Homo sapiens: one gene and its partner. The protein of the gene in region 1 purifies or fractionates together with the protein of each later gene. This does not show direct contact. Each region holds a gene or a part of one and is shown in the gene's direction. Other genes may lie near its edges.

Region 1 (3,500 bases):
TCAACACAGATGTGGCCCCTTTTCCTCCCCATCAGAGCTCGGCATATGTGTGCTGGGTACTCTCTCGAGCCCCGTTTCCCTCTGTGGCTCTACCTGCTTCTCCTTTGTTCCTCAGTCTGTACCCTTTCTATCCTTTCTCTCCTTTACCCCACTAGGTTTAGCTTCCTCCCACCTTTAGCTTTCTAACCATCACCCACTCCTTTCTATCACTGCCTCTGCATCAGGATTCTCAAACTCTCAAACTTATTCTCCCTTTGCCATGATTATCCCCTGCATCTTTCCACTCTAACTTCTATTTCTCTCCCTATATCTACTAATATGCCTTCAACTCTTAACAGTCTCTTCTCTATTATCTCCCTCACCATCTCCAGTCTCTCCCCTGGCTCTTCTCCCTGCTCTTTTCTTTCTCCCTATGTTCTACCTCCTTGTAGCACTGACTGTCCCCTGTCCACTGGGACAAGTATGTGGAACCAAAGACTTAGATGTAGCCCTCATCTTCAAACCCTGGATCAGCTTAGGTAGAGGGAGGGTTATGTTTAGAGCTTAGTAGAGAATGCGAAAATAGTAGTAGCTTCTCAATAAATGTTGGTTTGTTTGTTTCCTATTTTCACATTCTCTAGTTAATGCTCAGCACTCATGTGAAGCAAGAATTATTATTATCTGTATCACACTGAGAAGTTTGGTGAGTAAGGTTAGATAGTGGTTAGTAAGGAATCAGGCAGTGATTAAACCCACTTCAATTATAGCCAAAGAACAGAATTTAGATGCCAGGAAGAACTTTCAGGCACTTGCCTGTATAATTTAAGATTGGGAGTTTAGGGAGTTCATTCACCATGTATTTATTGAGTGCTGTCTAGCACTATGGGAGGCACTGAAGCTACAATGGTGAGCAAAACAGACACAGTATGAATAACAACAGTGTCCACTCTCATGGAGATTAGTACCTAATGGCAAGAAAATAGACAATTCTTATGCTGAAATTTGTAAAGTATGCTATTTGGGATGTTGCTTGTCACTCCCCATCTCACTAGTAGCTTCCCTATCCCAGCTACTTCTGATCTCTGAATTCTCACCCCCCAAACCCTACTCCATTGCACCATCACTGAAGCTCCAGCCAGTAAAATAACTGGACTACCAGGGCCCTGGGACCTCAGAGAATAATCAAGAAAAAAAAAAGCTATAGAGACTTTGGGTATCATATCCTGAATATATGAAGTTCATTAAGCACTTTCTCCTCATCTCCCTTAGAAGGTCCTCTTTCTCCCAGGGTGGGGGTGGGGAAGAGCTGACAGGACACCCTAAGTCCATCCTGATTTTGCAGAACTCAAGACATGGGGAGGATACTTAAAGGCCTAGACTTCCTAACCCTGCTTATATGGCTCTGGAAGCTCATTCCTGATTCTTCCTATCTAGAGTCAGGATAGACATATTCTGTCCAATGGAGACATGTTGTAGGACACTCCCAACTGACTTAGGAAAGGCAGTGAAGAGGAGCTGGAATGGAGGCAGAGGCAGATATTTATTGAGAATCATCTATTAGACCCAAGAAGGATCAATTTAAGGTCCAGAGCAAGGGGAAATGGGTCAAAATGTAAAGTTGGGATGTTCAAACTTTGTAAAGACCTACTGGCACTAGACTGAGAAGTCAAAGGAAGCTCAGGGGAGAAAAAAGGCATTGTAGTTAATCTGGTGTATTTAATATTATTTCTGGTGCTTTAGGCAAATAGGAGGCAACACCATGGAGGTAATTATTCCTTTCCTCAAGAGCTGGGGGCAGTCATGGTGATGATGATGGAGCAGCAGCTGAAGAAACTTCTTAAGAGAGAATGGGGAGACAGATGTATAGGAAGTGCTTGGATAGTTCCATTTTGCTGGGTGTTATTCCTAATGGGAGTGAGGCAAGAAGCCTAGATCTGAATTCTGGTTTACATAATGGGATAAATTTAGCTCATGCTCCCTATCTGGACCCTGGGTTATCCCCTCTCTGAGGCCATCTGTGTTATTTTGTGGGGGAGGGATGTGCCAGGCTCTACCTGTCCAGCAGATAAATCAGAGCAGATAGGGGAAAGGTGATGGAAGGGCAGCAGGTGTGATAAGAGGTATGGCTTCTATAAAGAGCTTCAAAGATTCAGAAAATGTTGGAGCCTTATATGCTGGGAAAAGTTGGACAGTAAGGATGGTGGTGGATGAATAATTTTGCAGGTTATCTGGTAGACAGGAACCTATATATTAGGGCAAATGGATTAGGAAATGGACACAGATCAGTAAGGCCTTATAGGGCCATCATCCTAAAGAGGAAGTGCTGTTTTAGGTACCGGAGACATGGTATAAGATAGGCATGGGAGAAGGGTAAAGAAGAACTGGAAAATCAGGCTGAGAAGTCCAAAATTGCCAGTGCCACCCAGGACTACTGATCCCCTACACAAACACCCTTTGCTGATGCTGTGCCCTTCTCTCTTATCAGCGGACCCAGCAGTACAGACAGATGGCAGCCCTCTCTGCTGCCATTTTCACTTCAGCCCCAAGGTGATGTTCACAAAGGTACTGAAGGCCCAGCTGTGGGTGTACCTACGGCCTGTACCCCGCCCAGCCACAGTCTACCTGCAGATCTTGCGACTAAAACCCCTAACTGGGGAAGGGACCGCAGGGGGAGGGGGCGGAGGCCGGCGTCACATCCGTATCCGCTCACTGAAGATTGAGCTGCACTCACGCTCAGGCCATTGGCAGAGCATCGACTTCAAGCAAGTGCTACACAGCTGGTTCCGCCAGCCACAGAGCAACTGGGGCATCGAGATCAACGCCTTTGATCCCAGTGGCACAGACCTGGCTGTCACCTCCCTGGGGCCGGGAGCCGAGGGGCTGGTGAGCAGGGGGCCTGAGGTGGTGGATATGTGTAACCTGGCCCTGAGGAGATAGGGTTACATTGGAAAAGGTAGACAAGGAATGTGAAGGAGGTTGGGGACCAGCATTACTTCTCTGGGGTCAGCAGCTGATTCTAGAGGAGGAGGTGAGGAGTGGGGTGGCAACTATTACTTCTCAAGGATCCAAATCAGACAACAGCTGAAAACTGGATTTGAAGGTAAAGGTGTCAGTTAATGGAAGAGCTGTGAGAACAAAAAAACTGGCTGTTGAGGCGTTGGGCCAAGGGGCTGACAGGGATCAGGTTGCCAGAAGAGTAAGAATTAGAGATGGTGAGTTGAAGGAGAGCTAGCTAGCTGGCAAGAAAAGTGGGCAAAAGATAAATTCTGGGGGTGGGAGCAATGGAAAAGCTGAGAAGTCAGCAGTCTCTATTCTGATGCCCCTGGCAGGTGGGAAAGGAACAGGGAAGAGGAACTGTTCAGGACCATATCACATTTCTTTCCCCTCTCCCTGACCCTCAGCATCCATTCATGGAGCTTCGAGTCCTAGAGAACACAAAACGTTCCCGGCGGAACCTGGGTCTGGACTGCGACGAGCACTCAAGCGAGTCCCGCTGCTGCCGATATCCCCTCACAGTGGAC
Region 2 (3,500 bases), on another chromosome or scaffold:
TCTGTGGCCCTTTTGCTGCTCATGATAGTGAGTGGTATGTCACTTTGGAGAAGATTCAAGACTGGGATCCCAAGCCTGGCGCAGTGGCTGATACTTGTAATCCCAGCACTTTGGGAGGCCAAGGTGGGTGGATTACTTGGACCTCAGGAGTTTGAGACCAGCCTGGGCACCATGGTGAAACGCCAACTCTATGAAAAATACAAAAATTAGCTGGCACTGTGGCGTGCAACTGTAGTCCCAGGTACTCAGGAGACTGAGGTGGTACGATCGCTTGAGCATGGGAGACTCAGAGGTTGCAGTGAGCCGAGATTGCACCACTGCACTCCAGCCTGGGTGAGAATGAGACCCTGTCTCAAAAAAAAAAAAAACTGGAATTCCAATAGTACCTAAAACAATCATTGCTTTTCAGTATAAACACAGTAACATGTTGAATTGTTTCTTGAACCAGATAGGCATGTAATATGTTCTGAAGAGTTCCCTTTGAAAAGAGGAAGACAGTAGTATTATATGTTGGCTGTTTATAATAATGCAGTGTTTAAGCTTCTACAGAGATGGTTTCTGTTGACTTTTTCCCCCATGCATGAGCCTTATTTTACTGTTTCTTTGTATGTCTCATCATTTTTTTTGGTTAAAAATTAGATTTTTGGCCTGGGCACGGTGGCTCACACCTGTAATCCCAGCACTTTGGAAGGCCGAGGCGGGTGGATCACTAGGTCAGGAGTTCAAGACCAGCCTGGCCAAGACGGTGAAACCCCATCTCTACTAAAAATACAAAAAAAATTAGCCAGGCGTTGTGGCGGGCGCCTGTAATCCCAGCTACTCGGGAGGCTGAGGCAGAGAATTGCTTGAACCCGGGAGGCGGTGGTTGCAGTGAGCTGAGATCATGCCACTGCACTCCAGCCTGGGCAACAGAGCAAGACTCCATCGCCCAGACTGGAGAGTACACTGGTGAGATCTCGGCTCACTGCAACCACCGCCTCCCCCGGGTTCAAGCAATTCTCTGCCTCAGCCTCCCGAGTAGCTGTGATTACAGGCTTCCGCCACCACACCCGGCTAATTTTTTTGTATTTTTAATAGAGAGGGTGTTTCACCGTCTTGGCCAGGCTGGTCTTGACCTCCTGACCTCGTGATCCACCTGCCTCGACCTCCCAAAGTGCTGGGATTATAGGCGTGAGCCATGGCACCCGGCCAAAAATTGGATATTTTTAAATAAGTTTTATTTAGATCCCACCCCCTACCTCCCCACCCCCATTCTGTCTCTCAGACATGATTTGTTTGGGTTTGGTTTGGTTTTTTGAGACAGGGTCTTGCTTTGTCACCCAGGCTGGAGTGCAGTGGCACAATCTCAGCTCACTGCAGCTTCAACTTCCCGGCCTCAAGAGATCCTCCCACCTTAGCCTCCCAAGTAGCTGGGACCACAGATGCTTGCCACCATGCCTGGCTAATTTTTGTATTTCTTTGTAGAGACAGGATTTCACCATGTTGCCCAGGCTACTAGTCTCGAACTCCTGGGCTCAAGAGACGTGGCCACCTCAGCCTCTCAAAGTGCCGGGATTGCAGGCATAAGCCACCATACTTGGCCAGACATGGTTTCTTTTTTTAATCTTTCAAGCTTTTTTTTTTTTTTTTGAAGACAGAGTCTCACTGTTACCAGGATGGAGTGCAGTGGCGTGATCTCGGCTCACTGCAACCTCTGCTTCCCGGGTTCAAGCGATTCCTTTGCCTCAATCTCCCGAGTAGCTGGGACTACAGGCACACGCCACCACGCCCAGCTAATTTTTGTATTTTTAGTAGAGATGGGGTTTTCACCATGTTGGCCAGGATGGTCTCATCTCTTTACCTTGTGATCTGCCCGCCTCTGCCTCCCAAAGTGCTGGGATTACAAGCACGAGTCACTGCGCCCGGCCTCAAGCTTTTATTTAAGTGCAGTGATCCAGGATGGATTTTAGATCTTGTTGAAAGCAGCCACATCCATGGACTGCACATAGTCCTCAAAAGCAGTGATCTGCTTCTCCACTGTTGCAAGTTTATCATCTTCAACTACACGCTGTATTTGAAGTTTCTTAATTTCCTATCCCACTGGAACTAGTTTAGATGAGCCAGACATCGTTTCTTATTGTTGTTACTGGTTTAGTGACTTTCCTGGACTTCTGTAATCCCTTTCCTGTAATTCTGTACAGTCTACATTTTGTGTGTATGGCCACTGAAGTCTGCATAGGTAGTTTACTGAACAAACTGATCATTGGACAGAAATTTTCTTAAAAGTCTTAAACCAGTAAGTCTCCACATTTTTGTTGGGGAGCTCTTTATAGGGTACACCATCAGTGTCCCATCAAGCAGTTTACAACTGCTTTAGCCTTTACTTCCTGTGTTAACAGAACCTCAAGGTCAGATAGAGATGAGAGTTGCTAAGGTCTTTCCTGGACATGTATACAGCTCTGTGCATGTGTATGGCCCTCTAGGTTCTCTGGAATATTGTCAGAGCTTTTTTTTTTTTTTTTTTTTTTTTTTTTTTTTTTTTTTCCTTGAGACGGAGTCTCGCTCTGTCCCCAAGACTGGAATGCAGTGGTGCGATCTTGGCTCACTGCAAGCTCCACCTCCCAGGTTCACGCTATTCTCCTGCCTCAGCCTCCCGAGTAGCTGGGACTACAGGCACTCGCCACCACGCCCAGCTAATATTTTGTATTTTTAGTAGGGACGAGATTTCACTGTGTTAGCCAGGATGGTCTCGATCTCCTGACCTCGTGATCCACTTGTCTCGGCCTCCCAAAGTGCTGGGATTACAGGCGTGAGCCACGGCGCCTGGCCTTTTTTTCTTTCTTTCTTTTTTTTTTTTTTTTTTTTTTTTTTTTTTGGAGACAGAGCTTTGTGTTGGCACGATCCTGGCTCACCGCAACCTCCGCCTGCCAGGTTCAAGTGATTCTCCTGCCTCAGCCTCCTGAGTAGCTGGGATTATAGGCGCTCACCACCACGCCCAACTAATTTTTTTTACTTTTGGTAGAGTCGGAGTTTCACCATGTTGGCCAAGCTGGTCTTGAACTCCTGACCTCAGGTGATCCACCTGCCTTGACCTCCCAAAGTACTGGGATGACAGGCATGAGCCATCACGTCCAGTCTGTCAGAGCTTTTTAAAGCCCCCTATGAACATCTCATTCTCCAGTTTTTCCTTTCAGTTTTTGTTCAGCTTCTTGATAGCCCAAACTTGTAATGCCACCACAGTAGTTGCAATGATAAACAGTTGCCATTGATTGTTTTTTGACAAATGTCTTGTGTTTAAGGCTATTTGAAAAGTGAGCTGTGGGTCAGATCAAATCTCCAAATATTTTATCCTGTCTTAGATTTATGTTTTAAGGAAGTGGTACACGTAAAGCTCTTAAAACAATATCTGCCACATAATAACATGATTATGCATATGTTCTTTTCATTTCTTGGAATGCCATCTGTCTGCTTGTTCATGGCAAAATTTTACTCATCTTTCTGGTCTCAGGTGAGAGCCAACA

What was found. Proteins that work in one complex are often made in the same cells at the same time.
Region 2: the proteins of GDF11 (region 1) and ZNF131 purify together in Homo sapiens (affinity purification with mass spectrometry; one large-scale study listed by BioGRID and IntAct). This does not show direct contact.

The regions. Positions count from the first base shown.
Region 1 is NC_000012.12:55,746,122-55,749,621, forward strand, and holds part of GDF11 (growth/differentiation factor 11 preproprotein), read left to right. Parts: intron 1-2,464; coding exon 2,465-2,862; intron 2,863-3,380; coding exon 3,381-3,500. UniProt on the Homo sapiens protein: Secreted signal that acts globally to regulate anterior/posterior axial patterning during development. May play critical roles in patterning both mesodermal and neural tissues. It is required for proper vertebral patterning and orofacial development.
Region 2 is NC_000005.10:43,141,414-43,144,913, forward strand, and holds part of ZNF131 (zinc finger protein 131), read left to right. Parts: intron 1-3,500. UniProt on the Homo sapiens protein: Plays a role during development and organogenesis as well as in the function of the adult central nervous system. May be involved in transcriptional regulation as a repressor of ESR1/ER-alpha signaling.